4 linked regions of the Homo sapiens genome follow. The protein of the gene in region 2 interacts with the protein of the main gene of each other region in a biochemical or structural test. Each region holds a gene or a part of one and is shown on either strand. Other genes may lie near its edges. The genes, in order: DCN, MET, RANBP9 and GLMN.

Evidence for each region.
Region 1: the proteins of MET (region 2) and DCN form a complex in vitro, tested with the Homo sapiens proteins (one study listed by BioGRID).
Region 3: the proteins of MET (region 2) and RANBP9 form a complex in vitro, tested with the Homo sapiens proteins (one study listed by BioGRID and IntAct).
Region 4: the proteins of MET (region 2) and GLMN form a complex in vitro, tested with the Homo sapiens proteins (one study listed by BioGRID).

Annotation. Positions count from the first base shown.
Region 1 is NC_000012.12:91,178,972-91,187,800, forward strand, and holds the start of DCN (decorin isoform a preproprotein), read right to left. Parts: upstream 3,847-8,829; 5' UTR 3,684-3,846; intron 509-3,683; exon of another isoform or gene 391-508; intron 1-390. UniProt on the Homo sapiens protein: May affect the rate of fibrils formation.
Region 2 is NC_000007.14:116,667,111-116,675,329, reverse strand, and holds the start of MET (hepatocyte growth factor receptor isoform b preproprotein), read right to left. Parts: upstream 3,135-8,219; 5' UTR 2,753-3,134; intron 1-2,752. UniProt on the Homo sapiens protein: Receptor tyrosine kinase that transduces signals from the extracellular matrix into the cytoplasm by binding to hepatocyte growth factor/HGF ligand. Regulates many physiological processes including proliferation, scattering, morphogenesis and survival.
Region 3 is NC_000006.12:13,701,097-13,709,252, forward strand, and holds part of RANBP9 (ran-binding protein 9), read right to left. Parts: intron 1-8,156. UniProt on the Homo sapiens protein: May act as scaffolding protein, and as adapter protein to couple membrane receptors to intracellular signaling pathways. Acts as a mediator of cell spreading and actin cytoskeleton rearrangement.
Region 4 is NC_000001.11:92,246,172-92,254,327, forward strand, and holds the end of GLMN (glomulin), read right to left. Parts: intron 1,819-8,156; coding exon 1,707-1,818; intron 974-1,706; coding exon 891-973; intron 476-890; coding exon 359-475; 3' UTR 231-358; downstream 1-230.

The sequences.
Region 1 (8,829 bases), on a different chromosome or scaffold from region 2:
TGCTTCAGAAATATCTCTGGAAGCCAGTCACATCTCTCCATCCTACCACAATTATTTTGATCCAGGCCCTTCTCATCTCTCCCTAAACTACTACAAGAGCTTCTAATTCATCTCTGCCTTGCATATTTCCTCTATTTCAGTCCATCTTCCATTTTGCTGCCTGAGTCATCGTCTAAAAATTCAATTTTGTCTTATTAATTTCTACTATAAACCATTTATTAACTTCCTATGGCTTATCAATACTGTCCACAGTCCCTGTGCTGTATGTCAGACCACTCATAAATTGGTATGAATTAATAGCTCTAGCCACATTCCTTTTCATTGTCACTCCATTCCCAGTCCTCACCTGAACCCTGACAATCAAAGCTACTTGCCATGTAGAATACCGACCTTGCAAGAGAGTTGTAAAGATTAAATGAGATAGTGGGCTTCTCTTCTGTGTCCCCTGGCTCATCCAGGCAAGATGCTGCTTTCTCCCTCTTCTCTGCTCCCAAAGCACGTTGCTCTTACCTCTTTTAAAGAACTTATCACATTATATTGCAATTTGTTTTGCGTGCTTGGTCTGTCCCTCACTAGACGATGTACTCCTTCAGGGCGTGTCTTATTATTCCTTGTTCTGTACCCGGGCCTTGCACAATATTTTGCACACAAATGACTCAATTGACCATCACTTTATTGACAAGACGATTTATTCCATTTGTTCCAAGCAATCAGTCTGATTTTTTAAAACACAAAATTAGCTTTTTTTCAGTATCGAATTTCTGATATAAAAAAAGCAGATTGAAAACCTCAACTTGGTATAAGCAAGATCGGCTTTAAAAAATAAATCAATTTCCTAGTTTCTCAAACATTATGTTTAATAAGCTAATAAACACATATGGAAAATTCTGATTTTTATGTGATGTATATATGATCTCATTTTGCTAACAGGGCATTTTGTAAAAAAACAAGTATTGTTTTGATAAATGTATTCCATATTTATCCATTCATTCCACAAGCACGAATCTATGTTGTTAAATCAACTGAAGTGCACTAAATAAATCTGAGTGACAAAATCGTAATAAATCTGAATAACAAAAGTACTTGATTATATAGCAGCAAAGTCATTTGGGAGATGAAATATTTTTTAAATTGCATTGAAACCATTCTGATATCTCCAAAACATAGTAGATATTTAGTCCCATCATAGCAGATATTTAGTCCCATCATCTCTACCTTGAATTGTACACTTAGACGAATCCATATTAAAGCTGTACGTTCGTAAGTAGAATCTTACAGCTGTTTTGAGTCATTATCCAATTGTAGCATATTAAAAAAAAGAAGAAAGAAAGAAGGAAGGAAGAAAGAAAGAAAGAAGGAAGAAAGAAAAGGAAAGAAAGAAAGAGAAAAAGAAAGAAAGGAAGAAAGTGAAAGAAAGAGAGAGAGAGAGAGAAAGAAAGAAGAGAAGAGAAAAGAAAGATCTTTGTATGATCTAACCTTAAGGTATCTTCTGGGAATTTTTGCCTAGATTCTCTAGAGAAGAAACAAATGTTTTTCAGTTTCTTACATGTTTGTTCTTAGTTTATATTTACTACTGATATGTGTCTAAGGCAGCACATGTTGAATACAGGCTTGTGGCTTTTCATTTAACAAAATATCATAAAGATTATTATTCACACTGCCACTTTAAGTTCAACATTAAGCTTCTTCTAGCAGCCCACTCTCATTCAGTTACTGAGTATCCCTTTAAGAGAAGACTTTTGTTTTGGCAGCCTGTTCCTTTGGATTGTATCTGAGGGAGTGGTTTTGTATCTGTTTCCCATTAAAAATGCAATGTTTATGGTTTACCACAAGCTTGCTAGCCTTGCATATTTAATGTCTTACAAGTTTAAAAGAAAAATGAAGCAAAGTCATTGCAGATTTAATAAATAGCAACGACAGTTAATGCAGATGTCACTTTGAAATCTTTTCTCCAGAGCAGAACATGCCTGGTTGTTTCACTAACAACCCACAAAAAGAAAATGTTGAGTATTAGCTGAGAGAAATAGTATTATAATTTATGTTTGTTTACTCCTGTTAAAATGGTACAAATTCTCCAAACAATATTCTTTTTGATTGAAGCTGAATATAGACAGGCAGCTTATAACTTCAATCACCGACCTTTATTTCATTTTCATTTGCTCGTGTGTGTGTGTGTGTGAGAGAGAGAGAATGTATGTGTGTGTGTTCATGTGTGTGTGACAGAGAGAGAGTGTATGTGTGTGTGTGCATTTAACCCTGACTGTACTGTGAAAAAATAATTGCATGTCCAGAAACTTTGTGCAAAATCTTCCATAAAATCATCTGTTTTAAATTAGTGTCATGGTACTTCAAGACCCAGCATCTTAAAACATTTAATGTGGGCTGTCAATACTGATAATTCCTTTCGTCATTTCCTTCTTTCCTTAATTAATCAGAAATATAAAGAGCAAAGAGCAGCTGTCCAAGTAGTAACCAAAGAGATTGTTATTGAGATGATATGCTGTTTAAATTATACTGAAACTGTTTTAAGTAGTCTAAAAATGCATGACAATGTCCAAGATGCTAATTACTAATGTAATATCACTACTCCACTGAAGCTAGTTGCCATAGTTTACAAATGTTTTACCAAAAATAATAATTTCTGGTTCCTAAAACTAGTTAAGCCCATTAAATGAAGTATGTCATCCAGATCAACATTTGCATTATGTTATCTATGCCTCTGGTGTCACTTTCAAAGTCAAAATTTAACCCTCAAGAGATAAGTGAAGCTATAAATGCAAAACAAAATTAAAATCCTACAGCACTAGATGATTAAAAACTTCAATTATAATATATGTAATTTTAAAATAAAGAATAAAGGCGGCATTTATCCACAAACAAGGGTTACTATAGGAGGCATTTGGCTCTTTTCTGGTTAGAAACAGCAACAGGAAAAAAAAAAGCCACAGGTATTTACATCACTGGGAGCCCACTTAATCAGTGGTCACTGTGTTACCCTGTTTTAAAATTAGAAAATTAACCCACATCCTCATTTTATAGTGAATGTATCTTAAAATTTCACTTGCAGTGAAGATACTGACTGGGACACTTTACATTTAAGAAATTATACAGCGTTTTTAGTATCTTAGGCATTTAATAACATAAATATTTTCAATGTTTATTTTCACTTCTCTGGTGATAATTTCTGTTCATTTCTGGGGTTGAAGAAATATACATTAGGTATTTTCAGCTAATCACCAGAGTTCAGTTCTTCTGGGCTTTTAAAAGTCCTTAAAGCAATCAAAAATTCAGGAGAAAAATACATTTTTTAAATATATAGGTCAATTACAGATATGCTACTTCAGAATACTTTTCGGTTACCATCTCTTGAAGAGCTAAACATTCATTAATACAAACACAAAAACATTAATATAGAGAGTCATGGTGTTAGGTTACAGTTTTTTAAGAAGCATCTTTGCAAAAACAGAAGAGAAAGAAATAAAACAATGCATTCAATCATTTTATCAAATATTTAACTTCTGTTTTCAAATAATACTTGTTTAAAATGTTGCATAAAAACTATAAAAGTTTAACAGTTTTTTTTTTCCTTTTCTTTTTCTCACCAAATAATCCCTTTTGCTCGCAACTTGACCGAAGTTTTATTAGTCTGTAGCAGAGTTCAGGACAATTATTGAAAACCATACCTTTTAATCCGGGAATTTGCCACAGGAGCCCTCAAAGCTGAGATGTAATTACACTAAATATTCAGCCCAAGTAAAAGAGTTTGCAGGTGTGGAAAGGAGGAGGGGGTAGGTGCTGCTCTGTGACTAGGTTGAAAACCTCCTGCTTCTACTCCATAGCACAGTTAAAAAATAAGGTTTCCCTCAATGAACACAATCCGGCTGACACCCACATTAGATCATATGGTAATGATATGTCTCTTGTATTGTAGCCAGAAACTTTATCGGCCTTTTTTTTCCTCCCATTTGCTTTATTCTTTTTGCATCTGCTTAAGATTCTAAACTGCTTATGCAGTATAGTGGAGCAACTTGATTTGAAATTTGTCTTATTGTAGATTCATTTCCCTAAGATATTGTAACTAAAGGGTTTGTTTCCCCACCCCCCATCTCATTTCATTCTCCACCCTTTCTAGCCTTGTTTACAAGTAGCATTTATTATACTTCCAAAATGACATTTTTTTCTTGCTTTTGGGATGTGTAAGTCCAGAAAAATGGAATGAAATTAATCTTGTAGTTGTTTTAAATGTGGACTGCAAAAATAAATGAGTAGCCTTATGTGAAACTACTCATTCGGATTCCTACTTGCCTTGGAATGTTTGTGTAAATTCAAGCACTATGCTGTGGAGTTTTTCTGTATATTTTGGACATATTTCTAAAGTGTCCTGAAAGAAAGTCATGGTTTTATATGAAAAGTATGTCATCTATCACTTTCATTAATCATAGTTTAAAATCTTTCTCCCTGTCCACCAGTTTTTAAATAAAATACATAGATAACCTGTAGTTGATCACAACATAGTTTCATCCTCTATATATGAAAAATTTGATTTTCATAGATTATACTTTTATGTAAACTAGAACTTTGAAAAGGCAATAGAGTCTATGTGTCTTTCCAAATTTCAGTAAATGAAAAGAAAAACAAGTGCAACTACAAGGAAAGGTATTTATTTAGCCACTGGAAATCTTTTTTGAGCTTTTATAATTCCCTTGCTGGATGCTGTTAGTTGTCTCTGTGTAGGTCTCTGTGTTTTGACTTGTATCATTATGCTCTGGCCCCTAGGCTGTTACCAGGTGGAAACTGGAAATCAACAGTTTGAAACATGAGATGATCCCCCTCCCATCCTCCAGCCTCCTTCCTTCCCTCCTCCAGCCATCAAAGTATATTCTTCCACAGTAAATATTCTTTTTCCTCAAAAAAACTTAGAGAAATTAAATTCTCAAGTGGTATCTAAGGAGGGGGAGGCGTGTTACCACGTTATAGTTTGCCTTATTTCCTAAGCCCAGCCTCTCAGATAAACAATTTACCCTACTCTGCATCTCCTTAACATTTAATAACCACATATCTAGTTATTCTGATAGTTTAGACAAAGGCAAGCACTATTGTCCCTGGACATTGGTGCAAAAGTCCATGATCCCCTTTACTTGGAATTTATTAATTTCCTTTCTGAACTCTCCTTATATGGCATTTATCTCTTTTTGATGACATATAATCACTCCTGCCTCATATTATAATTATTTATGTACGTGTCTTACTCCAAGGGAGGAATGACATTGTGTTCATGTTTGTAGAATCCCTGCACCCAGAATAGCCATGGTATATACTAAGTTACCAAGATACATTTGCTAAATTAGTAAAGACAATCAAATGATTGGCTATGGACCGTACCCGGACTGGTGTTTTGCCCCAATCCTGGCTTACTGTTTATCAAAACTTAACCCTACTAAAGTGTATATGACAAATTATGGCCATCATTACAAGACAGAGAGAGAGAAAAGGAAGTATTAAAGAAAAAGTAGAAGAAGAAAAATGAGGAGGAGGAGAAAAAAAGACATAATGCCTTTTTATGTAGATAATTTTACTTTTATAAAAGCAGAACCATTATGGTTAAGATTTAGATCTTGTTCCTTCCCCCCGATAGTAAGCTATATGAACTCAGGCAACTTGCTTAACCTCTCTGAATTTCAGTTTCCATATCTGAAAAATGGATACAAATTCTTACCTAACTCATAGTGTTGGAGTGGAGATTAAATAAGGCAATATATATAAAACACTTAACTCAGAACTTAATCCTTATAAGTGAAAATCTCTGTAAATGCAAGCTTTTATTATGTCTTGACATATTTCAAAACAATCCTTTGAGTTAGACAAGATAAGTCATATTTACTATTTCTGTTTTACAAATGAGAAAATTGAAGCCCAGTGACTTGCCCAAGTTCACAGAGCTGGCAAGAAACAAAGCAGAAACTAATATCCAGGTCTTCTCATGCCTAATCCACTTTTCATTACTAAACTATACTAAACTATAATGTATCTTAAGAAAGAGGAAGCAAATTCTTACATATAGAAAAGTAATTATCAAAGTTTTGAGATAACATCTTTTCAGACTATTTTACAAACCATGACCAAGTTGCAATGCTTTTAAAACTTTATTTAATTTGTTCAGGAACAAATAAAAATTTTCTTTTTGTTGTTGTTGTTTGGAAAGAAACTCACCTCCAAAATCTCAAGCATTTTACCAAACATCATCATATTTAAAAGCTGCATCTTTAATCACAAGTTACATCTATCGTCATACTCATTTTTCAGTAGAAGAAACTATGTCCCAACAAAGTCATACGCAGTTAAGTCACCAAGAGGTCATGACACTATGACCAGAAACCAGGTCTCTTGCAATCCAACATGAAATGGAACCATTTTAAGACTAGAAACAGCACTGTGCACAGATTGCTTAAAGTCATTCTGGCTTGGAATGTTTGGGGTAGGATTCCCTGAATCCCTGGCTGACATATAGATATGTGAAATATTCCAATTCAGAGCACATCCCACATCTACTGTTAAACTACTTAAACTTTGATTTCTACTGACAACCCACTAGCTAACAGGGTTAACTGTATTCTGCACATTGTCGAAGTTCATTTCAGGGCCATTCTCTCTCATTGACATCACATACAAAGTATTTAATTGTACCTGCCCATTAAGGATATGAAGAATGCCAGAGCTTAGAAAGGTCTCCTTCTGACACCCCTTTACTTTCTAAGAGGTCTAGAGGCAAGTGATTATCTTCACAATCCTGATGTGACTGGTTTGTCTGTAGACTGACTCTGCAAAGTCAGATCTGGGTCTGGTGTGAATTGTCTGGCTCTGTAGTTGCCACTGTAGACAGAGTTCTTCCCTAGCCAAGAAAGATGACTAGCGTGGAACTGAGGGCACTTTGAATACAGAATAGCTTGAAAGAAAATTTGGTGTAGACAACTTTTACCTTGGCTATCTTCCCATGCCTCTATTCCTCCATCCCTTACCATTGTGTTTGGTGTCCTGGTACCTTGTACAAGTAACTTAACCTCTTTGTTCTCCAGGTTTTTAACCTATACAATGTGAGTAGCCACAGTGGTATCCCCTTCATGAGTTTATAGTGAGGTTCAAAGAAGTTTAATACATAAAACATTTAGAACTGTGCCTGACACATCTCAAGCAACACTTGTTGCTTCCGCTGCTGCTTCTCTTGTGTTTTTTGTTATTACAAACTTTACCTTGGACACTCCAGTACAATAACCAGACTGCACATCTTTTATAGTCCAGTGGATTTTCTGCCTAACAACAGAAGAAATCAGCTAAGCTATGATATAGTTTGGAGCTAGATAAGCTTTCGTTTAAGCCTTGACTTTGTGTTGTTACATAACAGCCTGGCTTTCTTTATGCATAACATTTTATTGGGCTCCAAGTCCAGCTGAAATCCATTCATGGACTTTATAAGGAAACAGAGACTCCAGGTTAAGAATTTCTACTCTGAGCAGTAAAGTAGAAATGGGAATAGAGACAGGGAAAGGATAAGTAATGAATTAAAATAGATTAAAAAGTATCAAGGAGATATTCAGTTCCTTAATTTCCTGACTTTTCTTGAATGCTCTGGGGCATCTCTTTTGTCAGTTGTAATTAATTAAAAGATTAATTATTATTTCCATAATATTGATTAGTTTGTACTTGGACAGTAAATCAACACTTATTGAATATCCATTAGTCTGCACAAGGTACATACCTCTCTGTTAAATACAAGGAAATTTACAATAACTCATCAATCAATTAATCAAAAAATATAGACTGAGGAACCACTGTGGGAGGAAGTGTTATACCAGGCCCCATGGAAGATACCAAGAAATACAAAGTACGATGTGAAGGGCATAGCCTCAAGGGAAATATGTTGCATAAGGAGATATGGCATAAACTATAGATTTGTATAATAATATTTTAGCTTTAGCATACCAGAAAACTTATAATGTATAATTCCCGGCCAAAGTAAAGTATGATGTAATTAAAATAATTGTCTTAGAAAGTCAGAGAAGGGATTGAGGGATGGATCACTTTACATTTGAGTGGTTAGGTAAGTGTTTATAATGAACAAGGTACAATTTGAGCTAAATCCTGAGGGATGAAAAGAATATGCATGGAGAGAAAAGAAAGAAATGGCTTTTTATGTTGGCAAAATGACACTAACAAACCTTGGCAATGGGAAAGCAGAAGACAATAAATAAATCAATGTGGCTTAAGCAGATACTTTCTTTCAAAGAAGCCTTGAGTTCCTTTATTTCTTTGAACATTCAGTAACTCTCATGGTATCTGACATGTCAAAGTCACACAATAAATTAATGTCCCATGTTTATGGAAATAACTAAAAGGAGATAATGAAATAAATGAGGGTAAGGTCTAACTGTGGAAGGACTTGAAATTCTCCCATGGAGCACTTATACATTTATTCATTCATTTGTTCATCAAATATTAATTTGTTGATGAATATGTGCCAATTATTATGCTTGAATCTAGATGTTATCAAAGGTAATTGAATGAGGTAATAACATGATCCAATTATTATTTTAGAAAATCAAATCTAGCAAGCACATGTAGAGTGGTGAAACTAGAGTCAAGGAAACTAGTTAGAAGGTTGTAGTTTTAATCTCAGTATATTAATATCTTAGTAAGGGGAAGGAAGATAGATGAGCATGGCGAAAATAGAGCTACTTCTCAGGAAGATGATGTAATACATTAAAAAGAAAAGTTTGGAGTACTCATTCTGCACCAGGCACCATGGTACATAGTCAATTTTAAAAGCACAAATAA
Region 2 (8,219 bases):
GATATTTGTCTGTGTATCTAGATCATAAACTTCTCAAGGGCAGATTCCATTTCTTTCTTTTAAAGAAAATGCTGTAGTACCTAGCACATATGATACTCTACCTATAGGTCCTAGCTATTTTTGGTCAGGCAAATGTGGATCTAGCAGCAACTCAGTGTCAGTTGAGAACACATCATCAAAGTGATTCTGAACTAACATTAGTCAGTGTATCTATCATTTATTACTGAGAAGTGACTATTTATTTTGCACTGAGCAAAACCCATGAAGAAACTCTGCCCTAAGGGCTTGGTGTCAAAAACACTAGTTTCAGCATACACCAGCCAGGAAAAGAAGGCTCACTTCCGGACACTTGAGTTTCTACATACATTTTCTCCCCTTAAGAGGGCACAATGAGGAAATTGAGTATCCTATGAATAAACACAGCAGACCAAGGAAATCTTAGGGATTTAGACCACGGAAAAGAAAGCGTAGATGGCTCTGGCGAGAATCACTAAGCCTAATGCCTAAAGAAGAAACGAGCAAACTGGGCTGGAGAAATGGGGGCACGGAAGGCCTTGAAAGCAGCTCTGACCAAACCAAGGGAAAGGGTTGAGGAGGAAGAGGACAGAGAAATGGGAGGTAATCTGAATGTGTGAGGAACTGTGCTCACCATGGGGGTGTTGCCATGTCTTTGGTGCAGCCACTTGGAGAAAATAAGCCAGTTAGAGGATGTTAGCTCCTCTGAGTTATTCACGTTGTTTTGAGATGACCACATTTGAGAAAAAGTTAATTTGAGACTATTATGTAGATCTGCAGAAGGATAATATGACTAATGCTACTTCAAACACTATTTTAAAAACAGCTAAGGAAATTGATTTTTGAAATGTATTTCTTAGTCTAGCCCTCATTAAGACAATTTTTTTTTAAAGATTTCAAGATTAATGCAAGGCATATACTTACATAGTCTTAAAAGGAATTTATAAAATATGGGTATTTCTCCTGCTTAGCAAAGGGTCATTTTTCTCTATTATAGGTTTAAAAGTAGTGAAAATATTAGTTATGAGCTTTCGTATTGACTGGCTATGATTAATCTGGTACATTTTTTATCATGAAGATAAACTCCATCAACTAATTTTGAAAGCATGTAGTATACATCTAATGTAAACCCCTACTGCCATGTATCAAGAACAAAGCAATTTTGAAAAAGCAGTAGTCGGCAGACTGTCTTCTATATGCCACAAATTCCATCATGTTAAAAGCAAAATATATTTAAGTTAATAACTATAGCTTATACACCATTAAGTTTGAAAACGGAATAGAATTTTTAAAACAGCAGTACATTTTATAGGCTATCAGACACATTTTTGTACTACCAAAATTTCTTATGAATGATGTAAATTTTCCCTCTGTTATTCAGCAGTTCAAAAAGAATGAACATTGAATACACCACAGACTTGCAAATGATAGGAACCAAAGTACCTCACTTATGTTCCATTATGGAAGTTTACACGTTCAAAACAAAGCTCAATTAGCTTAGATCAAGGAAGGAAAGCTATGTACCTGTAAATAATCCAAGCACCACTTACACTGTTTACATAAAAATGCAATTTATGTCCCTGTAGCACAGAGAAACATGATGTACATCATTTTCAGATCATCTTCATGCAGAAAAAATTCATTAGTCAGCTATAATAGTTTAGCTGTAAGGGAATATAATGTTTTTCTGAATCCATTTGCATGGCAATGTGCATGTGTCTGGCTGATGAAAGCGACAGAATAAACCCCCACCCAAAGCTACAGAATGTGAACAGTCTTCTTAAAATTCAAGAGAGGGTCCAGATAGTCTATATTGCCTCCAACGTCAGTTCTTACAATCCTCTCACATTCATGGACCATCTTAACATAGCAATTAAAGTATCTTGATTATTTTGCCTAAGAGAGTTGACAATATTTCATTCTGCCCGAGGGCTCCTTTGAACATAAAACTGTGATAAGGTAAAATACACTGGGCAACTATTCATGCGTGAGCCATTGGAGCCCTCTCCAACTGCCAAATTAGCAAATGGCTCTTTTAAAACATGAAAGATATGAATGGGAAACCGTACTTCGGAGTAAATTCTGCATTGACAATAGTCAGGGAAAGTACTTTCACTGGTGCTTTAATTATCGGGTCAGCACTACGACTGGCCACATCGCTCAGCCTCTGGTTATAATCTATTTCACCTAATAAGATAGATGTCCACCACAAGCCCCAGAAAGAGATAAGGTACGATGGAAAATTGATGGATCACAAGCCCCGCGTGATTGCCAGAAATGAATTCAGACTTTCACAGAAACACCTGCCCCTTGGAAGGACCCCAACATAACACAGATAAAGCAAGGCTGGGAACAAGGAAACAGCTCGGCTCAAACCTTGCCAGCTGCATCACGGTGGGACGAGGATGACCGGATCCCTTTTGTAAGGGCTGAGTCAGATCCCAGCTTTAAAACTTGCTGGGCCGTAACAGTCACACATCACCCACTGTCCCAGCGCCCCTCTCCCTCCTAAGTCATACAGGTGGCCATCAGAAGCAACCCCCTAAAAAGACAAGCCCCATTCTAGTTTCGTCCTCGCCGTGGCCACGTCTCTTCAGTTTCCGAAGCCCCTAAACTCTAGCCCACCTACGTGGTTTTGCCCCCTGGAACAGCAGTCAGGTCTCTTAGGGGAACAAAGAAAGCAGAACCCCTGAGGCGAGGGATTGGGTACTGGATCTGAAAGGGGCTGCAATTTTACCTTTCGGTGCCCAGGAACCAGTGGAGAAGTCAGCGGCGCAAGGACCACACGCGCGCTCCGCGCCTCCCCGCCTCCTCTCAGCAAGTCAGCTGTCGCCCCGCATCTGGCTCGCGCCCTCCACTCGGCTCCGCATCTGCTCACAAAGCGCTCGGGGCGCCGCGGGCGGCGAGGGCCTCCGGGTCACCTGCGGCCGGGCTGAGCCCAGCGCCCCGCCCGCCCGCCGGCCGCACTCCCTCCGCCCCTTCCCACACGCGCGCTGCCCTGCCAGTGACTCAGCCGGGCATCGGCGCGCGCGGCCCGCGGCGGCCCGGGCGCGTTGGGGCCGGAGGCACCGCCAGGCGACCAGACTGAGGCGCTCGCCTGCCCGCCCCAGCACGTGTCTGTCTGCCTCGCGTGCTGTCCGTCCCCTAGTCCGCGGGTTCCGAGGACCGCTGAGGTGGGGACTGGCACCACCCAGAGGGAAATCGGCCCCCGCCCTTCCTGCCGTCCGCGCCGCGCCTGGCCCCGCGGGGGTCGCGTTTCCTCCCGCCTCTGCCCCGCCCACGACAAGGTGAAACTTTCTAGGTGGAGAAGTTTTCTCGCCCTGGCTGCGCGCTCTCCTCCCCCAGCTCAGGCAGTCTGAAGTTAGCACAGCCGGAGATAAGCGGGACCGAGTCTCCCCCTCCTGGCGCTTGGGAGGCGAGTGTCACCCCGGGCTCAGATGCAGGGCGCGCACCCTCCTGGCACCCCGCTCGCTGACCCCGGGAAGGGCGCGAGCTTTGCTCTCGGCCTCTCCCACGTCTCCGCTAACCGCCCCGCGCCCACCCGGGTTTAGAGAGATTTGGGCACCGCAGAAACAAGGAGTTCATTGTTAGAGGCGGAGGTAGAAGTGGATGGACGAATTGTCCCAATGATTTCATTATGCAACGATTATCCTCTACTATAATAACTCAAATTTCTGCAAGGAAGAACAACAGAGGAGTTTAACCCTGAGGAGACTTCCATTTCTTTTTTTCTTTTTTTTTTTTTCCATAGCCGGAAGCAGGCTGATTAAATAACTGGGCAAATAGCGATGAATAAGCACAACAGAACAAAAGTTTAATTCTTGAATGTTGAAATCTTATGATGATTTTTAAAAAAGAGCTTTTGGGGCCTCGGTGAACTCTATTAGGAGTAATTGTGTTGGGATAACTTTGTATTTCGCTATAAAAATTGGCACCTACAAGAGTAAATGAACACTCAAAGGTAATAGGATCTAAGGAACGGGCATTGCCGGTTAGAACTTGAGTTCGTTCCGGCTCTCATACCAACTTGTTCAATCATGGCAATAGATAATGAGACATAGATATCTTCGTTATTGAAAGTCATGGGTTAAAATAACAGTTACTATGCAGGTTCAGTTCTTATTTACTACAGAATGAAACATAGAAAAATGTAGTAAGAATAGTTATCATTTCCCAAGTGCCAGGCACTTGGAAATGATAATGTAACCAGAGGTTACATAAGAGTGATTTCAGTCCTCAAAAGAGATTACCTCTTGATTCCCCAGTTTTATGGAAAAGGAAAGTTCCCATTACGTTACTAAAGTCTTGCATTGAACCATTTTGCAGGTAAAGAAACTGAGTCCCTAAAAGTTCCCAGGAGAGTCACATAGCTGGTTAGTAAGAGGGGCAAAGTTAGAACTTAGCTTTCAGCCCAGTCAGGTGTCCTTCACACCATACCAAGAGGCCTCAGCAGGCTAAATAAACAACGCGGCCTGACTGGAGATTTCCTGATACGGCATGGCATAATTTATCAATGACTATAGCTCATTAAAAAACACTAATTTACTGGTAATAAGGCACTGGGCCTATTTATGGACAGATCAATTACAGATTTTGGGTTCAGTAACAGCTTTCAATAAAAGATGAATAAATTAATGAATTTAAAAAGTTTTACACACACACACACACACACACACACACACACACAGAGCCATAGTTGTCTAAAGGAATGATTAGAGTGCTGTTTCTATTTCCTGGTTTCCATAGCAATATGTTAACTGGATTTTTAGATCACATTATGTAGTTGCCTTAACAGGTTTTCTGAGTTTGAGTGCCATGATAAAAATATAAAAGAAAAAATTTACAATTAAAGTTGTAGAAAGACCCAGAAAAGCCAATGCAAACTGGAAAATAAAATAGATGATAAATACAAACAACCCGTTGTGTATTTTCAGCACTGAAACTTTCTAGTTTCTAATAACTAACAAAATTTCAATCCAGTTTTGAAACTGTATTGAAAATCATCATTTCATTTATCAACTGTAAATAAGGAGATAACATTTTATGAAATAACATAACTAACAATAGCATAACTAAAAGTATCTGGGTGTGTGAAGGTCAAGTAATTTTTACACACTACCTAGACAGATTTGATTGGGAAAATGTTTACAGATAATTTCAGATTTTTGGAAATGAATGGAAACAGATATTTTAAAAGGTAATAGGAGTTCTATAATTCAATTTTGGTTTTGCAGCAAACTTTTAATTGTTGCTATTTAACTTTCCTTGGGTTCATGTCATGGGTGATACACTGTATGATGAAGTTCTGTTGGTATTTTCTTAACCAAACCAAATCTCTTGTGGTCCACACTGTTGGCTGGCTAAGCCAGCATCTGTTCCCAACGAGATTTTCCTGTTCCTGCCTCCACTCTTGGGGCTTGAAAAGAGAAATATTTGCTTTCCCAGACTCCTTTGCAGCTAGACATGGCCATGTGATGTCATTCTGGTAATGAGGTATAAGTTGAAGTCTGATGGGGCCTTGTGGGAAAGGGTTTAAGGCTGGTGCCACCCCTTTTCCTTTCTTGCTTCTTGATTTCATATATGATGCCCAGTGAAGAACTAACCATCTTGTGACCAGCATGCAGAAGTTGGTGCTGACATTGCTGAGGTACAGCCCTACTGCCAGTAGACACCTGCTTCCAGATTTCTTGTTTTGTGGAAAAAAAACAAAAACAAAACTTGTTCTAGACACTGGTAGCTGGGACTTCTGTCACCTGCAGCTGAAAGCAATTAAAACTGATAGACCCCTCAAATTGGGAACAACATCTCCAAGACTGAGTTGAGCATAATAGTTAAGAGTTTTAGAACCAAACAACCTGGATTTCAATCCCAGCTATGTCTCTTGCTAGCTGTGTAGCTACAGGCCAGTGGATTAAACTCTCTCGTGTCTCATCTGTGAAATGGGGATCATGATAGGGTTATTGTGAGGATAAAATGAGGAGCTACAAGTAGAGCACATGGAACAGTGTCTGGTAAAATATAAATGATCCAAAGGCATAAGCAGGTCTTATCCATCCACCTGTGGATAACATAATGTTGAACTACAAACAGGATCCCATCTCTTAACTTTGAGATGGGTCTAGTGATAGCTGTGACAAAGAGACAGAGGAACAGCCACCTCCTGCTCTAATATGCTCTATCTTTTTTTCCCTCCCTTTAACACATTAAAATTTGGGTCTTTGAAGGCACTCTTGAAGTTGGTGCTGTTTTTGAAATAAAAATGAAAGCAGTCTCCTAAGAATAGGGGCTTCATGCTTGCAATGTATGGTGAATAGGGCCCACAGACATATACAGGTGCACAGAATGTTTTTAAAAGTGTGAATTGAGGTAGAAAGACCATATGATCTGCTGTTTGCCATTGACCTACCATCTTCTCTTGGGTTGTGTCTGGCCCACCTCTGATCTTGATTTCACTTTCTCCTGTAGGCATTAGGATCTGTGATCCCTGCCTTAAAGAGTAGTTACTCTGGAACTCCTTCTTTCACTCTGTTTTTCCCTTCCTCCTGCCCCATCACCCCTATTATTGTGCCTATGGCAAATGTCTCTACAAAAAGACAATAGAAGAATTCAGGTAATGTCACCTAATGTCATTTCTGAGCACAGATAAAATTTGGAAATGTAGGACTCCTATTACCTTTTTAGAGCTATGTCATGTATGTTCGAATGTTGAAGGTTTTGAAAATTCATGTGATAAAACAAAACAGCAAAACCGAACCAAAAACCAAAAAAACCCTTCTTAACTTTGCTTACCCTACCATCTCCCCAATTTAATTGACCACAAAATGCTTTGATTTTTCTTAATATCTTCAGTGTCAATTTTCTATAAAATTAGTTTTATAGATTATACATTTTAGGAAACTTCGCGTTAAAAATGGAACTGCCAGCTACAGAGGGTTAAAACTGGGCACTTTGGATATGAACTGCTTTTATGTTGATTTGTATTGGTCATTTATGTGTGGCTGGGCTGTCTAAAAATAAATATGCAATGTTAAGTTATCTAAAAATATGACTGAGCATACTTAATATTGAGGACAAGAACAAGACTGCTAGGCTACAAGCTAAAGTATCACAATGTTAATTAGAAGACCTAGGAAATTGTAGGCAGAAAAATTAAGAAAAAATTACCGTCTCCAACAGGGTGCTGCAATTTTGTTAGTGATTTGGTTCATTTTCACATCCAGCTTATGACCTCTCTCCTAAAATCAGGCAAAGGTATAATGTATTTAGCTGTCACTTATTAAATGTGTACCATGTATTCATCATGAGTCTGGAGCTCTGCTTACATCCTCATTAAAAGAACTCCAGAATAGGTATCACCCTTCTCGGTTTACATTGAGGGAAATGAGGCTCAGAGAGATCATGTAACCTATCCAAAGTCACACAGCTGTCTTAAGTCTGTGTCTTTCCAGAATGACTGCACTTCCATTATAATTATTTATTTATTTATTTTAATTGAGATGGAGTCTTGCTTTGTGGCCCAGACTGGAGTGCGAAGGTGTGATCTCAGCTCACTGCAACCTCTGCCTCCCAGGTTCAGGTGATTCTCCTGCCTCAGCCTCCTGAGTAGCTAGGATTACGGGCTCCCGCCACCATGCTAGTTTTTGTATTTTTATTAGAGACGGGGTTTCACCATGTTGGCCAGGGTGGTCTTGAACTCCTGATCTGAAGTGATCCACCCACCTCAACCTCCCAAAGTGCTGGGATTACAGGTGTGAGCCACTGTGCCCGGCCTCTGTTATAATTATTTTAAATTGTCTCCGGTTCTGTAGTGAATGATGCAGTCGTTTAACTGGGAGCAGTAGACCTATTTTTTTTAAGCTTTTATTTTAGGCTTAGGGTTACATGTGCAGGTTTGTTATACAGGTAAACTCGTGTCATGGGGGTTTGTTGTACAGATTATTCCATCACCCAGCTATTAAGCCTAGTACCCAAAAGTTTTTTTTTTTTTTGAGAAGTAGAACTTAAGGCACTCTTTCATTTTCCTTCTCTGTCTGCAAAGTCAGCCACAACCTAAGGCATGGCCACTTCTCTGCTGGCTTGATCATTGGGGACTGATGTTGCAGTGCAGGCCAAAGGTGCTATGCTGTCCATCTGTAGAACACTGCACAGGTCGGAGCCAGGGTCCTAGGCAGTCAAGCTGGCCTAAGTGGTGGGCTGTAGGTGCC
Region 3 (8,156 bases), on a different chromosome or scaffold from region 2:
TTTTTCTCCCTTTTTCCTCTTCCAGGACAGGCTACATGGTAATCACTTAAAGCTCTCAAATATCCTTGATTTCCCTCATATGCCCATCATTCTATCATATCCAACCAGCAAAATGACACTCTCAGTATCATAATCTACCTTCCATACTCCCACACTGGACAGTTGACTTCCAATGAATAAAGTCCAAAATCTTATGAACAGCCACTGCTATGAACTAATGATGTCAACTGAGCACTCTCAATGCTACCAACAATATTTTTAGAAATGTTGTCAGCTTATTCCCTATCCCTCTCAATGGCTTAGTCCACATTTTCATCATTTACTTTAAACTTTACATCCTCTACTCAAATTCATGAGCAAAGTACCTCACCTCTTATCAAGAAAACAGGAGGCCAGCTGGGTGCGGTGGCTCACACCTGTAATCCCAGCACTTTGGGAGGCCAAGGCAGGCGGATTGCCTGAGGTCTGGAGTTCGAGACCAGCCTGGCCAACATAAAACCCCATCTCCACTAAAAATACAAAAAGTGGCCAGGCATGGTGGTGCGCAACTGTATTCCCAGCTACTTGGGAGGCTGAGGCGGAAGAATGGCTTGAACCCTGGAGGCAGAGATTGCAGTGACCCGACGTTGTACCACTGCACTCCAGCCTGGGCGACAAGAGCAAGGCTCCATCTCAAAAAAAAAAAACCAAAAAAACAAAAAACGAGAGGCCATTAGCTATGGTCATATTCAACTCTCCACTCTTTTATTACAAAGTGATCTATGTCCACGGCAGTCTTCACCTCTTCCACTATTATCAAAGAACAGTCTGTACTCTCCTCTCCAAGACCAACCATTCTGGACTCTGGAACCAGTTTCCTCTCTAGAAGCCTCTCTGTCAGCCTCTCAAGCTTGTATTTCATTATCTTCCTCTCTAATCTCTCCTTCCCCTCAATCTGTAAAGGGACAATGTCCCCAAAATGTACACTTTTCACAAATTCTATGCCTCCGTGCTACATATAAATCATTGTCAGTAATGTACCAGAGTTGGTGGTATATAATTTTTTACCTTAAAAGTAATAACAAGGCTGGGCGCAGTGGCTCATGCCTGTAATCCCAGCACTTTGGGAGGCCAAGGTGGGTGGATCACTTGAGGTCAGGAGTTCGAGACCAGCCTGGCCAACATGGTGAAATCCCATCTCTACTAAAAACATAAAACTTAGCCAGGCATGGTGGCGGGTGTGTGTAATCTCAGCTATTCGGGAGGCTGAGGGAGGAGAATTGCTTAAACCTGGGATCCGGCCTGACAAAGCGAGACTCTGTTCAAGAAAAAATAGTAATAATAACCAGGTAGGCTAATCAATTTTATTTGTTAAAATGTTAAATTTTGTATACATTTCCTGGAACACCATACCTTGGACTAATATAATATAGTATTTTCATTTAATTTATGTCGCTTCAGTTTTACCTATACAACCAAATTAAAACAAGATTGACTAAGAAATGACACAGTGGTCTCTAACACAATACTTTCCAAAGGAATTTTTAAGGATAATTTTGGTTATGTAGGATTTTCATCTTCTATGCTGACATTAGAAGCTAAACACCAGGTAAAACGTAACTCCACTATCAGCCGTTAAAAATTAGAAGAAAAAAAAAATCCTACCTTAACCTCCATCCTCCTCTAGGAAATGCCTCATCTCTTCCTTCATCTATATTTCTCAAGGATAATCTCTATTCACTATCCTCTCTACTTGGTCCTTTCATTTACTCTTTCAACCCACTGAAATCTGGTTTTTGCCCCATCACTCAATTCAAACTGCTCTCCCTAAAGTCACAATGATCTAATTTCCAAACGTAGTGGAAAACTATCTGTGCCTATCCTACTAAACCTATCTGTTGCAACAGACACTAAATATCACTTCCTCATTTCTAGGGAAGGTGGGGAGGCTGTTTGAGACAGTGTCTCATTCTGTTGCCCAGGCTAAAATGCAGTGGCATGATCACCGCTGGCTACAGCCTCAACTTCCTGGGTTCAAGCAGTCCTCCCACCTCGACTTCCCCAAGTTTTGGGATTACAGGTGTGAGCCACTGCACCCTCCCGTGCTCAGCTTCTGTGACACCAATCTCCTTGATGTCTGGGGACCTACCATTTCTTTTGTGCTCCCTCTAGTCTTTCAATGTTGGTGTTCTTCAGGGTCCCCATCTTTGGCCCACTGCTTTTTCTCACTCTATTCTCCCTCTCTCTTTCAAATACTCTGAGTTTCAACTACCACCTACAAGTGACTCCTAAATCAGTCACGACCTAGACCTCTCTCCCAAGCTTCAGATCAATTATGGTTAACTGCCAACCCTTCCTAGGAGAAACTGCCTCACACATTGCCCCTACCGAAAGAAGTGAGACCCAGACTATCCTTGTACCAGCAGGGTATTTTGTATTTTATAATTACCACCATTCCTACAGCTGATTCAACACAGGTTAGCACCTGACTTGAAGGCCACCAATTCACAACATAGTCTGTATTGAAAAGCTCTGCCCAACTAAGAATCATAGCAATTAGCCAGGCCAATCTGTTAAGTCTCTCAGGAATTTGACATAGGAAGGAAAGGATAAGCCAGTCAGTAGGGAAAAAGAAATAAAACAACCAGAAACTAGTGATTGGAGCTGAGTCATTTTAATAGAATAGAATTAAGTCATGACTATTAAGACCAGTTAGAGTCCCCTTAACTCCAAAAGACCTGTTCCTGTTCTTTCTGTAAGGCTTGTTTCTTTGGCTTCTTCTGGTTTCCATGAAGTCAGATCACAGGGCTGAGATTCCCATTTTTACTTATCTCCAACTATACTGTAATACAGTCTCCTTCACAATCATTATTTTATTCATGGTTCACTGCAAGAGCCTAACAGCTAAAGACCCAAACATCATCCTAACAGAGTTGGAAACCCAAACATTTTCTTTGATTTCTCTCACTATCATTCCTCATATCCTCTCAGTATTACTTTTAAATATCTCACAAATATATCTGCCTTTCTCTGGCCTTACCACTGACCCAGCTGAGGTCAATTCTAACATGGTCTACTGCAATAGTCTTCTAAATGAATTTACTATTCCCACTCTTGTAACCTCTTGAATCTATCTTCCAATCAGCTGCGTAATCTGACAAAAATGAAGATATGAGCCAGTCACTTCCCATTTAAAATCCTTTGATGATTCTCCATCTCCTACAGAATAAGATCTAAACTCAACAAAATATTCCATAGGGCTCCTAACTGGGCCAGGTACAGTGGCTCCTGCCTGTAATCCTAGCACTTTGGGAGGCTAAGGCAGGCAGATGGCTTGAGCTCAGGAATTCGAGACCAGCCTGGGCAACATGGCAAAACCCCCTTCTCTACAAAAAAATACAAAAAATTAGCTGGGAATGGTGGCACGTGCCTGTAGTTGCAGCTATTCAGGATGCTGAGGTGGGAGGATCACTTGAGCCCAGGAGGCAGAGGTTGCAGTGAGCCTAGATCGCACCACTGCATTCTAGCCTGGACAATGGAGTCAGACCCTGCCTCAAAAGAGAAAAAAAAAAAAGCCTCCTAATTGATCTTTTCCCAGATGCTCCTTGTCACATACTCTAAATGCCAACCCAAAATTGCTTGTAAAACCAGACACATAAAGTAATTCTCTATGTTTTTGCTTTTCCTTCATTTGCAACACCTAGCCCCTCCCTTTCTCCTATATCCTACTCATCTTTTAAGACTGACCACTAGCCTCGACTCCTCCAAGAAGCTATCCCTGATACCTACACTTCCTTCATTCTTTCCAATGTCAGCCTGGGTTATACGCTCCTCCTATTTTCCACAGTACTCTCTATAATATTTCCCTTACTACTCTATTTTATGTCCTCTGAGCTCTCTGAATTCAATGACAGTATCTTCTCCACCTCTGAGTGTCCAGAACCTAGCACAAAGTAAACATTCACTAAAAGCTCATTAAATAAATGAAGAAATGAACAGTGAAAAACACATATAAATTGTCTAGTCTAGCAGAATATATATCATTAGGCTGGGTGCAGTGGTTCACGCCTATAATCCCAGCACTTTGAGAAGCCAAGGCAGGCGGATCACTTGAGGTCAGGAGTTCCAGACCAGCCTGGCCAACATGGCAAAACCCCATCGCTACTAAATATACAAAAATTAGCCAGGCGTGGTGGCAGGCGCTTGTAATCCCGGCTACTTGGGAGGCTGAGGCTGGAAAGTCACTTGAATCCAGGAGATGGAGGTTGCAGTGAGCTGACAAAGTGCCACCACTGCACTTCGGCCTGGGCGACAGAGCAAGATTCTGTCTCAAAAAAAAAAAAAAAAAAAAAAAAAAAAAGAATATACATTATTATTGTCTACTGTTCTGCATGATTATTAGATTTACTTGATTCTTGCAGTTACCAACTGGCATTTTTAAACCTAATTTCCCAAAATCTTGGCAAGTAATTCTTCAATTCCTTCATTTTAAGGAACATTTTTAGGCCGGGCGCGGTGGCTCACGCCTGTAATCCCAGCACTTTGGGAGGACGAGGCGCGCAGATCACAAGGTCAGGAGATCAAGACCATCCTGACTAACTCGGTGAAACCCCCTCTCTATTAAAAATACAAAAGAAATTAGCCAGGCGTGGTGGCAGGCGCATGTAGTCCCAGCTACTGGGGAGGCTGAAGCAGGAGAATGGTCTGAACCCAGGAGGCGGAGCTTGCAGTGAGCGGAGATCGCGCCACTGCCCTGCAGCCTGGGCCTGGGCGACAGAGCAAGACTCCGTCTCAAAAAAAAAAAAAAAAAAGAAACATTTTTATATCACCCCCGTAATGCTTAACAGACATTTGCACTTGTAAGCAAGCATGCTGAAATATCTGTTCAAACTTAAAAAGTGCAAGAAATTAGATAAGCAATTATATTTAGGAAGTGTTCAAGCGCTAATGACTGGGGGTACAGGTGGGAAAGACAGAGTAAGTATAACAAAAGTTCAACCTATCACTCCTGTAATCCCAGCACTTTGGGAGGCCGAGGCGAGTGGATCACTAGGTCAGCAGATAAGAGACCACCTTGGCTAACACGGTGAAACCCTATCTCTACTAAAAATACAAAAAATTAGCCGGGCGTCGCGGCGGGCACCTGTAGTCCCAGCTACTTGGAAGGCTGAGGCAGGAAAATGGCGTGAACGCGGGAGGCGGAGCTTGCAGTGAGCCGAGATGGCGCCACTGCACTCCAGCCTGGGCAACAGAGCAAGACTCGGTCTCAAAAAACAACAAAAAAGTTCAACCTATTTGGTTATTGTTCATAACATTTCAATTAAAAAGTGAAATTCTGGCTGGGCACTGTGGCTCACGCCTGTAATCCCAGCACTTTGGGAGGGCGAGGCGGGCAGATCACGAGGTCAAGAGATCGAGACCATCCTGGCCAACATGTTGAAACCTCCCCTCTACTAAAAATACAAAAATTAGCCAGGCGTGGTGGCGCATGCCTGTATTCTCAGCTATTCAGGAGGCTGAGGCAGAAGAATTGCTTGAACCCGGGAGGCGGAGGTTGCAGTGAGCCAAGATGGCGCCACTGTACTCCAGCCTGACAACAGCAGAGCGAGACTCCATCTTAAAAAAAAAAAAAAAGGACAATTCAGGCCAGGCGCAGTGGCTCATGCCTGTAATCCCGGCATTTTGGGAGGCCGAGGCGGGCAGATCATCTGAGGTCAGGAGTTCAAGACCAGCCTGGCCAACATGGTGAAACCCCGTCTCTACTAGAAATACAAGAATTAGCCGGACGTGGTGCTAAGCGCCTGTAATCCCAGCTACTCAGCTACTCAGGAGGCTGAGGCAGAAGAACTGCATGAACCCAGGAGAGGCTGCAATGAGTAGAGATTGTACCACCGCACTCCAGCCTGGACGATAGAGCAAGACTCTGTCTCAAAAAAAAAAAAAAAAAATGCAATTCACTATTTATTTACTTATTTTTTTTTTAAGATAGGGTCTCACTCTGTCACCCAGGCCATCATAGCTCACTGAAGCCTCAACCTCCTGGGCTCAACCAATCCTCCTCCCTCAGCCTCCTAAGTGGCTGGGATTTCAAGTGTGTGCCACTTAGCCCGGTTAATTTTTAGGGGTAGAGACGGGGTCCCACTATGTTGCCCAGGCTGGTCTAGAACTCTTGGGCTCAAGCGATCCTTCTACTTTGGCCTCCCAAAGTGCTGGGATTACAGGCGTAAGCCACCACACCCACTGAAATTGACTATTTCATTGCTTCCTATAATTCCCAACTTTGACTTACCTTGGATTTCTTCTAAACTGTTCTAAATTAGTAAAATCAAGGTGTCTGGACTTTTCTGAAGCACTGTGTTCCAGTTACCTTTTTCCCCCAGAGTAAGTATTTTCAATCTCAACTATTCTTTAAAAGTTCTAAATGTGATCACAGGATTTTATCTACTTGAGATAATTAAGTCTCATATGAACTTAAAGAGGCAATACTATGGGATTGTGAAAAGAACACTAAATCTGGAGTTAGTGAAAATTTTCAATCCTGATTTACTCATGACTGGGAAGATCTAACCTCCAGGTTCTACCACTCTCTAAAATTTAAAATGAAAATTCCAGGATCTTGTCCAGATCCACTAGTGTGTGTATATATAAAGCACTCTATAAAATATCCAAATAGTGGTAATAACTAGAAAAATATAAAAATGCAATCTGTTGTTGAAACATTTAAACTAAGTCCATTGTCATATTTATTAAAATTATTTTCCCGTTATCATTATAACTAAGTCTAAACTTGTCACATTTGTACTTATTCAATACTGACAACAATTTCAAAAATAAGAGGGGCTATCCCTGGGTTTTTCAATAGTTGTTGTGTGACTGCTAAGCAAAAGGCCTTTAAAAAAATTTCACATATACTATACATACCCTGTTGTTCCTCTGCAATCCAATCAACCTTATCTGCATGTCTAGTATTATCTAACATTAATCTCTTCAAATCATTTCAGGAACAATACTGCTTCCAAAAGCAGTAATTTCAATTTAGAAGAACATCTTAAAAACAGAATACAGGCTGGACACAGTGGCTCAGGCTTGTAATTCCAGTACTTTGGGATGCCAAGGTGGGAGGATCACTGGAGCCCAAACATTCAACACTAGCCTAGGCAACACAGTAAGACCCCATCTCCACAAAAAAAAAAATTACAACTTAGCCCAGCATAGTGACAGGAGCCTGTGGTCCCAGCTACTTGGGAGATGGAGGCAGGGGGATCCCTTGAGCCTAGGAGGTCTAGACTGCAGTGAGCCATGATCGCACCACTGCACTCCATCAAGGCAACAAAGTTGAAATCCTATCACACACACATACACAAAAACACCAGAACAACAACAAAAAACCAGAATACCTTTGGAGCAAAAGAAAGCAAAATACTTCTATTTCAAAGATAAGGAAAATTCTCGTCACTCTGGAAAATAATTAAAATCATTCTTTTGAAATTCTGTAATACGTGAATATATGAATAGTAGTTTTTACTGTTAAAAGTGTCTCATGATACTTAGGTAAAACCAATGCAGCACAATGATAGGTTAAATAAAAATTCACTCTTCTTATTCTGTGATTTTAAAGTATTATCTACTCTCTATGATACTTCTCCTTTGCTACTGCTACTGCTACTGGGACACAGTTGCCCACCACAATCGGCGTGGTCCTCTCACAAAACACGCAGAAAATCAACAGTAACAACGGAAAACTCACACACACACACACACACACACACACAGTCTACAGTAACAAGACAAGAGGAAGAGGCAGTAGAAAGGGAAAAAGACTTTCTGACAAGGGGTAAGAGAGAGACAAAGGAAAGATAGAAGAGAGGAAAAATAAAAGGATAACAACAAAATCTGTTCTTCCAGAAATAATGATTTATGTTTATAAAACAGTTATGTTCCCAGAAAGTGAACCTTAGTATTACACAACAGAAAGTAATAAAGAGGCCAAGAATAAAAACAACTGAGACAGCAGTGTCAGAAATATTCCAAACTCCAACTAATTTCATATAAACGTGTATTTTTCTCTGACCTAATCATCAATTTTATGTAAAAGACTAAAACTAATCAAGACACCTTACAGTACTAAATAAACAGTAATCACGAATCTTAGACATCACGGAAATTCAGAGCTGGAA
Region 4 (8,156 bases), on a different chromosome or scaffold from region 2:
ATGTTACATAGCATCTAACTGCAGCAGAAAGTGTATCAGTATTTTTATAAGCTCACTAAAACTGTAGGAATGAATATAGACAATTCAGCTACATTTTATGAAGTTATAAAATTATTAGTTTGTATTGGATTTTCAAAAGTAGTATTTAGGACATATGTGGGCATTATTTACCATTAGATAACTTTAAAACCAAAAAAACCTGTTCTATAGTGTATCATTATAGAAATTGATAAATGAGAAAAGCTACATTTATTTTTCAAGCAGTAAATTTTTACAGAAAAATTTTTTATAAAGGTATTAAATGAATCATAATGGAAAGTACTATATTTTATTAGTTTTTATTTAGGAAATGGAACTTTCACTTTATCCCAATATTTTCTTCAGAGGTAGACTTTGTTTTTATTTCAATGAGTTCTTCCACTCGAGCTAGAACACTTTCAATCAAATCAAATGTGAAAAGAGCTGAATGCAGGACCTGCAATGCCAAGAAAAAGTAATGTTATTAATGCTGCCTTTAAAGCAAAACAAAGCAAAACACAGAAAAGATTTCAGCTGGAGGTAGCTTAGGAATATTTAAGACCAGGTACAGTGGTTTGCACCTGTAATTCCTGTGCTTTGGGAGGCTGAGCTGAGAGGATTACTAGAGGCCAGGAGTTGGAGACCAGCCTGAGCAACATAGTGAGACCCTATCTCTACTAAAAATTAGCCAGGCATGGTGGTGTGCACCTGCAGTCCTGGCTAATCAGGAATCTGAGGTGGGTGGATCACTTGAGCCCAGGGAGTTGAAGCTGCAGTGAGCCACAATCATGCCACTGCACTCCAGCTTGGGCAAGATAGCAAGACCCCGTTTCTAAAGAAGAAAAAGGAAAGAAAAGAAAATTTCAGATCACCTTAAGCTGCATTTCAGGAGGCATATTAGGGATCTCTTCTCCACTTACAGTTATAGAACAAAGATCTTTAGATTTCTGGGCCTCTGTAAGAGAAGAAAAATCATGTGTGACACTTAACTCTCAGATTTCAATAACAAAGGTATAAGCTACTTTCATTCACTAACTTAAAACATGTCAGTTATTTGTATAAATTATTAAGTCCATTGTTTAACAGCTCAGGGTATACTTAAGCTATAAGCAAACAGAATGAAATATCAAAATTCTGCAACATGTAAATTAATGCTTCTTTAGATAAATAGCATTATTTTGGCATGTATAGGATTCATGAAACTGTTTTCTTCAGTATATAATCAGAATTATAGCCATTATACTAAAAACAAAATTTCCGGTAATGCCTATAAAAGCACCACCACAGATATACGGAAGAGATCACACGATTATTATAGAATTATTGACTTAAAAAAATTCTGGATCTAAGATTCTTTTCATAATTTGTATGGATTTACTTGAGAGTGAGATGGAGAGTGGACCCAGCAATACCAAAGGAATGGTACCCAAACGGAAATAGCTGTAATACAGATTCTTAATCAGACCTTGAGGCTTTACAATGTAATATTTGGTTTAAGTCTTCATTAACCCGATTTTAGGTAAATTAGCTTATAGATCTGCTAAGAATTTTAACTATAAATAAAATGGCTTAGCTGTTATGGTCTCTAAAGTACAAGATTTTTAAAAAGTTCTTAAATTTGAATATGACAGTTCCAAAATTAGACTACTTTTTAGACCTAATTGAAAACAAAATTGCACATTACCAACCTTGGCTATTTTTAATTTCTGCTTCATAATGTGCTTTTGACATATTAAGTCCTATATGAAGTGGCTTTAAGAAATTATTCTCAATATTTCCAAGTTCTGTCCATAATCCAGTCTGTTAAGAATGAAAGAATGAGTTATTTAGTTCAACAATGATTGATTGCCTACTATTAAACGCGATAAAAGCTCAAAAAACAAAAATAAATGAAACATGGCCCTTGCTTTTCACAATGGACTTCACTATTTAATAATTATTACTATAGCTAGTTATGTGAATACCAATTAAAAGAAAAATGTACTTGGGGCACTACGCTTATCACTGCACCATTTGGATAGCTCCAGGTTTTGAGATCTATTAACTTGTTAAGTTTTATTTATGAGAAAATTATTTGAGGATAAATTCACAGACGTCTCTTCCTCTATGAGCCATCTCCACAATGACTCTACCTTATTTATGCCTTCATCCCAAGTATGGCCTTTCAATTGATATCCACACCACGGATCTAGTTCTAGAGGATGCTTTCCCTTTCCTACTGATGGAAACTTTTCTAATACCCGGCTAATTTGAACCTCCCTGGTGACCAAAGTAGGTGAAGATTTTATCTGTTGAGGGCAGCTTATTTTGTCATGTATCTTAGAGTTTATTCCAAGAGCATTTTCTCTTACAGTACTAATGGAGAGGACTCATGAAGTCTTTATTTTAAAAAATAGAGAAAAGAAAATCCATTGGTACTTCCAGTTTCCAAGTACTCTTTACAAAGGAAAATGTCTTAGGTCAAAAAGGGAAACGTAGGGACCCAATTTATTCTTAACTAGAATAATGAACTACTTGATAACCTATTTTGTAATGAGCTTATTTTGACCCAAGTAGTACATGTTACTTGCAGCATTCCAAATAAAATCTACACATGTCTATGCTGAATAATTGATAATATTAATGTCTCACACCTATCCTTTTCATTTCAGTCATCTTGTCTTATTTATCCTATACTAATAGGAAAAGTAGAATACTAGAGAGGATCTAAAACCCTCAAAAATATGCATACCTTTTCACTTAGCATCTATCAACTTATCTTGGGGAAATAAAGATGTATGTTATGATTCTACTGCAGATGTTTTTTAAAAATGTTTAGTGAAACATTAGAATTAAAATAACTCAACAGGAGATTCATAGTAAATTATGACATATTAACATAATGGAAAAACTATACAGCCATTAAAATACTGTTTTTCAGTACATATTGGTGAATGGGAAAAAAGGTTATAAAACAGTGTGATTCTTTTAGTATGATCTCATTTTCTTTTTAAAAAAGAAAAAATGTACAGACGTATTAACCCAAAACCTAGAAGGGAATACAGTATATCAACAACGGTGTAATTTTGATTACTATTCTTTTTTTTTTTTTTTTGCTTCTTTATGTTGATTTTTAAATAATGGATGTTTTAGTTGTATAATTTTTAAATTGTTAAGTGGAAAGTTTTCTTAACCTCTAATGGCAAATTTGGGTTATATGCAGCAGGAATTTCCTTAACCAGTGTAGCCACACAGTATAACAAGCATATTACTCTTATGTGCACTGACTGCTCTCATTTCTCCTATTTTTACCTCTCTCTATCCAGCCTTTTTCTTTTACTGATACATGATATTTTACATATTTATGGGTACATGTATTTGTTACACGTATAAAATGTATAATAATGTCAGAGTATTTGGGGTATCCATCCTCTTGAGTATTCATCATTTCTATGGGTTGGTAACATTTCCTGTCCTCTCTCCTAGCTACATTGAAATATACAATATATTGTTGCTAATTATAGTCACTGTAATGTGCTATCAAGCAATACAGCTTGTCTTTTATCTAACTCTTTTTGTACCCATTCACCAGTTGCTCTACATTTCCTCCTCCCATGCTCACACTCTGGTATCAATCAATCATTCTATATTCTGTATCCACGAGATCAAGTTTGTTAGCTCACACATGTGAGAATATGTGATACTGTCTTTCTGGGCCTGGCATATTTCAATGTAATGACATGTAGGTCCATCCACGTTGCTGCAAATAACAGGCTTTTATTCCTTTTTACGTCCAGCCTTTTCTTCACCATTTATTCCCTGCCCCCCAACTTTTTTTTTTTCTTTTTACTTTGCATTCACCTCTGGGTTTATAGGCAGAACCCACTGCAACTGATGGCTTTCAAGACTAGGTTACTGATGACTCTCTGTTACCCACTAAAGCACATTTGAACATAAAGAGTATAGGGAAAACACCTAGCTTTGACAAAAGGAAACCTTTGACAAAAGGAAACATTTTATCATATTTACTTTTAAAAAATAAATACTAGATATGGCTGAAATCCCCTTTATTCAAGAGGTAGCCATTATCTAAAACTTGAATGTTTTGCATTCCTAATGTATCACTTAAACAATATAATTTTTCATGTTTAAAAGCACATAAATGGTATACTGTATATAACCTGCTTCAGCTTCCTTTTTCTTTGTCAATCTTATGTTTTTGAGAGTTATTTGTGTTGTAGCTCTAATTTTAATTGGTGCATAAGCATTCCATTATATGGAATTTATCCTAAGTTTTTAGTATTTCAAAATAATGCAGCATTTACATTGCTGTATGTTTTCCCATTCACACGGGGTAAAAGTTTTTCTAGGATACTGTTTTTCAAATTATTTTTGCCATGACTCTCAGTAAAAACTAGGTTTTACATCACAACTCACACGTTTATTTATATAGTTGAAATAAAAGTTTTCCCTCAAATCCTTTCCATATAACACATTTAATCTTAATACTTTAATGTAGAAAAATGGAGAATAAACAATTCAAAAGTAAACATCAGAAAGATTTTTACATAATCAGTGTGCTTGCCTGTTCATGAGGTAATTTCAGTCTAATTCACTATTGAGCCTAGTTCTTTTCTTTTTATTATTTTTCAAAGTCAGGTTTGTTGAGATATTGTTTACATACAGTAAAATATAACCTTCTAGCTATACAATTCTGAGCTTTGACAAAGATATATAGTGATATAAAGTCATGTAACCACTGCTGCTGTAAAGATATTCCCATGACCCAGAAATTTCTTTGTGCCCCTTTGTAGTCAGTTTCCTCCCACCTCCAGCAACCAGCAATCTGATTTTTGTTAAGGTAATTTTTGCCTTTTCCAGAATGCCATAAGTGGAATTAAAACTCTTTGTGGCAGAAATTGACAAAATTCTAAAATTTATACAGAAAAGGTAAAGGATTTAAAAATAGCCAATACAATTTTGAAAAAGAAGAACAAAGTTGGCAGACTCACATTACTTGAGGTCAAGACTTCCTATAAAGGAATAAAACAGAATAATTTCTTCCTATAAAGGAATCAAGACAGTGTGGTATTGGTAAAAGAATAGATACAGGTAAATGGAATAGAGTCCAAAAATAGACCCATACTTATAAAATGATTTTTGATAAAGTTGCCAAGATAATTCAGTAAATTAAGGATAACCTTTTCTACAAATAGTGTTGAGGTCAAAATAAAAGAAAAAAAAATCTCTCAACCCATATCTCATATCATAAAAAGTTTACTTGAAATGGGGTCATTGACCTAAGTGTAAAACCTAAAACTATACAATTTCTACAAGAAATTACCTTTGTGATCTGGGTTAACAAAGACTTCTTAGAACCCATAAATAATGAATCATAAAAGAATAAAATTGATAAGTTGGACTCCATAAATATTAAAATTTCTGTTCTTTGAAAAATACTATTAAAACACAAGCCACAGACTGGAATATTTGCAAAAATATAACCAAAGAATTTGTATCCATGAAAAACTTTCCTCTTGTAGAAGTTCTAAGTTGAAAATTTTTTTCTTTCATCCTTTCAGTTTTACTTTGTAATGGAAATTCTTTTAAATCTGATTCCCAAAACTTTTTTTTTTTTTTTTAAGATGGTGTCTTCTTGCTCTGTTGCCCAGGCTGGAGTGCAGAGGCATGATCTGAGCTCACTGCAGCCTCCACCTACTGGGTTCAAGCAATTCTCCTGCCTCAGCCTCCAGAGTAGCTGGGATTATAAGCGTCTGCCACCATGCCCAGCTAATTTTTTTGTAGTTTTAGTAGAGATGGGGTTTCGCCATGTTGGACTGGCTGGTCTCTAACTCCTAACCTCAGGTGATCTGCCCGCCTCAGCCTCCCAAAGTGCTGGGATTACAGTGATAAAGTTTTATAATCATTCATTGGTACAAATATACAATTAAGCTTCACTAATTCTCTTCAGCCAAAAATTTTAACCAAATTACTAAATCAGGACTTTAAAAAGCAAATGTATCTCTAACCAAACGTTTTCTTTTAATGTTTCAAATTTCTCAAATGGAAATAATCACATATTAATAAAGAGTACTGGCCCAGCGCAGTAGCTCATGCCTGTAATCCCAGATGGGAGGATCACCTGAGTACAGGAGGTTGTTATTGCAATGTGCCGTGATTGCGCCACTGCACTCCAGCCTGGGCTATAGAGTGAGACCCCAACTCAAAAGGAAAAAAAAATTAATATAAATTTAAATAGTCACATGTGTCTACTGTCTACTGTATTGGACAGTGCAAATCTAGATCTTTGAATGTTAAAACCTTAGCTGTTTTCAATGGCAATAGCCCATAATCATAAAACTTCAGGTAATAAAAACACATGCCAAAAGTAGCCTAAAGAAATTTTTTACATATTCTGTTCAGCATAATTCCACAAATTTTTCAGATGATAAACTGTAATATTTTTAGAAGCATGTAGGAGTGAAGAAGCTGTGAGAATAAGAATATTTTTTCTCTCAAGGTTACCAGATCGTTTTTAAAGAAATAATAAATACTACAAAGAAAATCACATTTTAAGATTTCTTAAAATCTTTCAGTGTCTAGAAAAAGTAAATTAAGAGTTTTAAAATAGTTATAATTAAAAATTTGAAATGTTCACAAATACCTGCTTTTAATTTCATACCCAAGGAGGCTTACTGATTTCCAGTTCTAAGGCTTAAAACTATACATTTCAAAATTCACTGTAGCATATCTCTCTCACAAAAGGAAGACTAGGCAGTTCTACACTACAATGAAATTTATTGCCAGAACAGTCAGGAACCCTGCAAAGAATACAGTCAGTGATGGTAATGAAGAAATAAAAAGCCATGAACAAGACCCAGGTTTCCCCTTTCTTCTAATTCATATAGAAGTCATCCGGCTCTGCAAATATTTCATGGATATGTTTTATCTTAGAGAAAGAAACAACTTACACAATATGCCCCTGTACCAAACCTGCACCCCTGAATCTTAAATAGAAATGGAAATTGAAAAAAAACTTAAGCTCTAGATTCCTCCTCTCTCTGGGCAGGGCATCTCTGAAAGAAAGGCAGCAGCTCCAGTCAGGGGCTTATAGATAAAACTTCCATCTCCCTGGGACAGAGCACCTTGGGGAAAGGGTGGCTGTGGGTGCAGCTTCAGCAGACAAACATTCCTGCCTGCCAGCTCTGAAGAGAGCAGCAGATCTCTCAGCACAGCGCTTGAGCTCTGCTAAGGGACAGACTGCTTCCTCAAATGGGTCCCTGACCCCTCGTGCTTCCTGATAGGGAGACACCTCCCAGCAGGGGTCAACAGCCACCTCATACAGGAGAGCTCCGGCTGGCATCTGGCGGGTGCCCCTCTGGGATGAAGCTTCCAGAGGAAGGAGCAGGCAGCAATCTTTGCTGTTCTGCAGCCTCCAATGGTGATACCCGGGCAAACAGGGTCTGGAGTGGACCCCCAGCAAACTGCAGCAGACCTGCAGAAGAGGGGCCTGACTGTTAGAAGGAAAACTAACAAACACAAAGCAATAGCATTAACGTCAACAAAAAGGATGACCCAAGCAAAAACTCCACCCAAAGGTCACCAACAGCAAAGACCAAAGGTAGAAATCCACGAAGACGAGGAAAAAGCAGCGGAAAAGGGCTGAAAATTCCAAGCACACGAACACCTCTTCTCCAAAGGATCACAACTCCTTGCCAGCAAGGGAACAAAACTGGACAGAGAATGAGTTTGATGAACTGACAGAAGTAGGCTTCAGAAGTTGAGTAATAACAAACTCCTCCAAGCTAAAGGAGCATGTTCTAACCCAATGCAAGGAGCTAAGAACCTTGATAAAAGGTTAGAGTAATTGCCAACTAGAATAAGCAGTTTAGAGAAGAACATAAATGACCTGATGGAGCTGAAAAACACAGCACAAGAACTTCGTGAAGCATATGCAAGTATCAATAGCTGAATCGATCAAGTGGAAGAAAGAATATCAGAGATTGAAGATCAACTTAATGAAATAAAGTGTGAAGACAAGATTAGAGAAAAAAAGAATGAAAAGGAATGAACAAAGCTTCCAAGAAATATGGGACTATGTGAAAAGACCAAACCTATGTTTGACTGGTGTACCTGAAAGTGATGGGGACAATGGAACC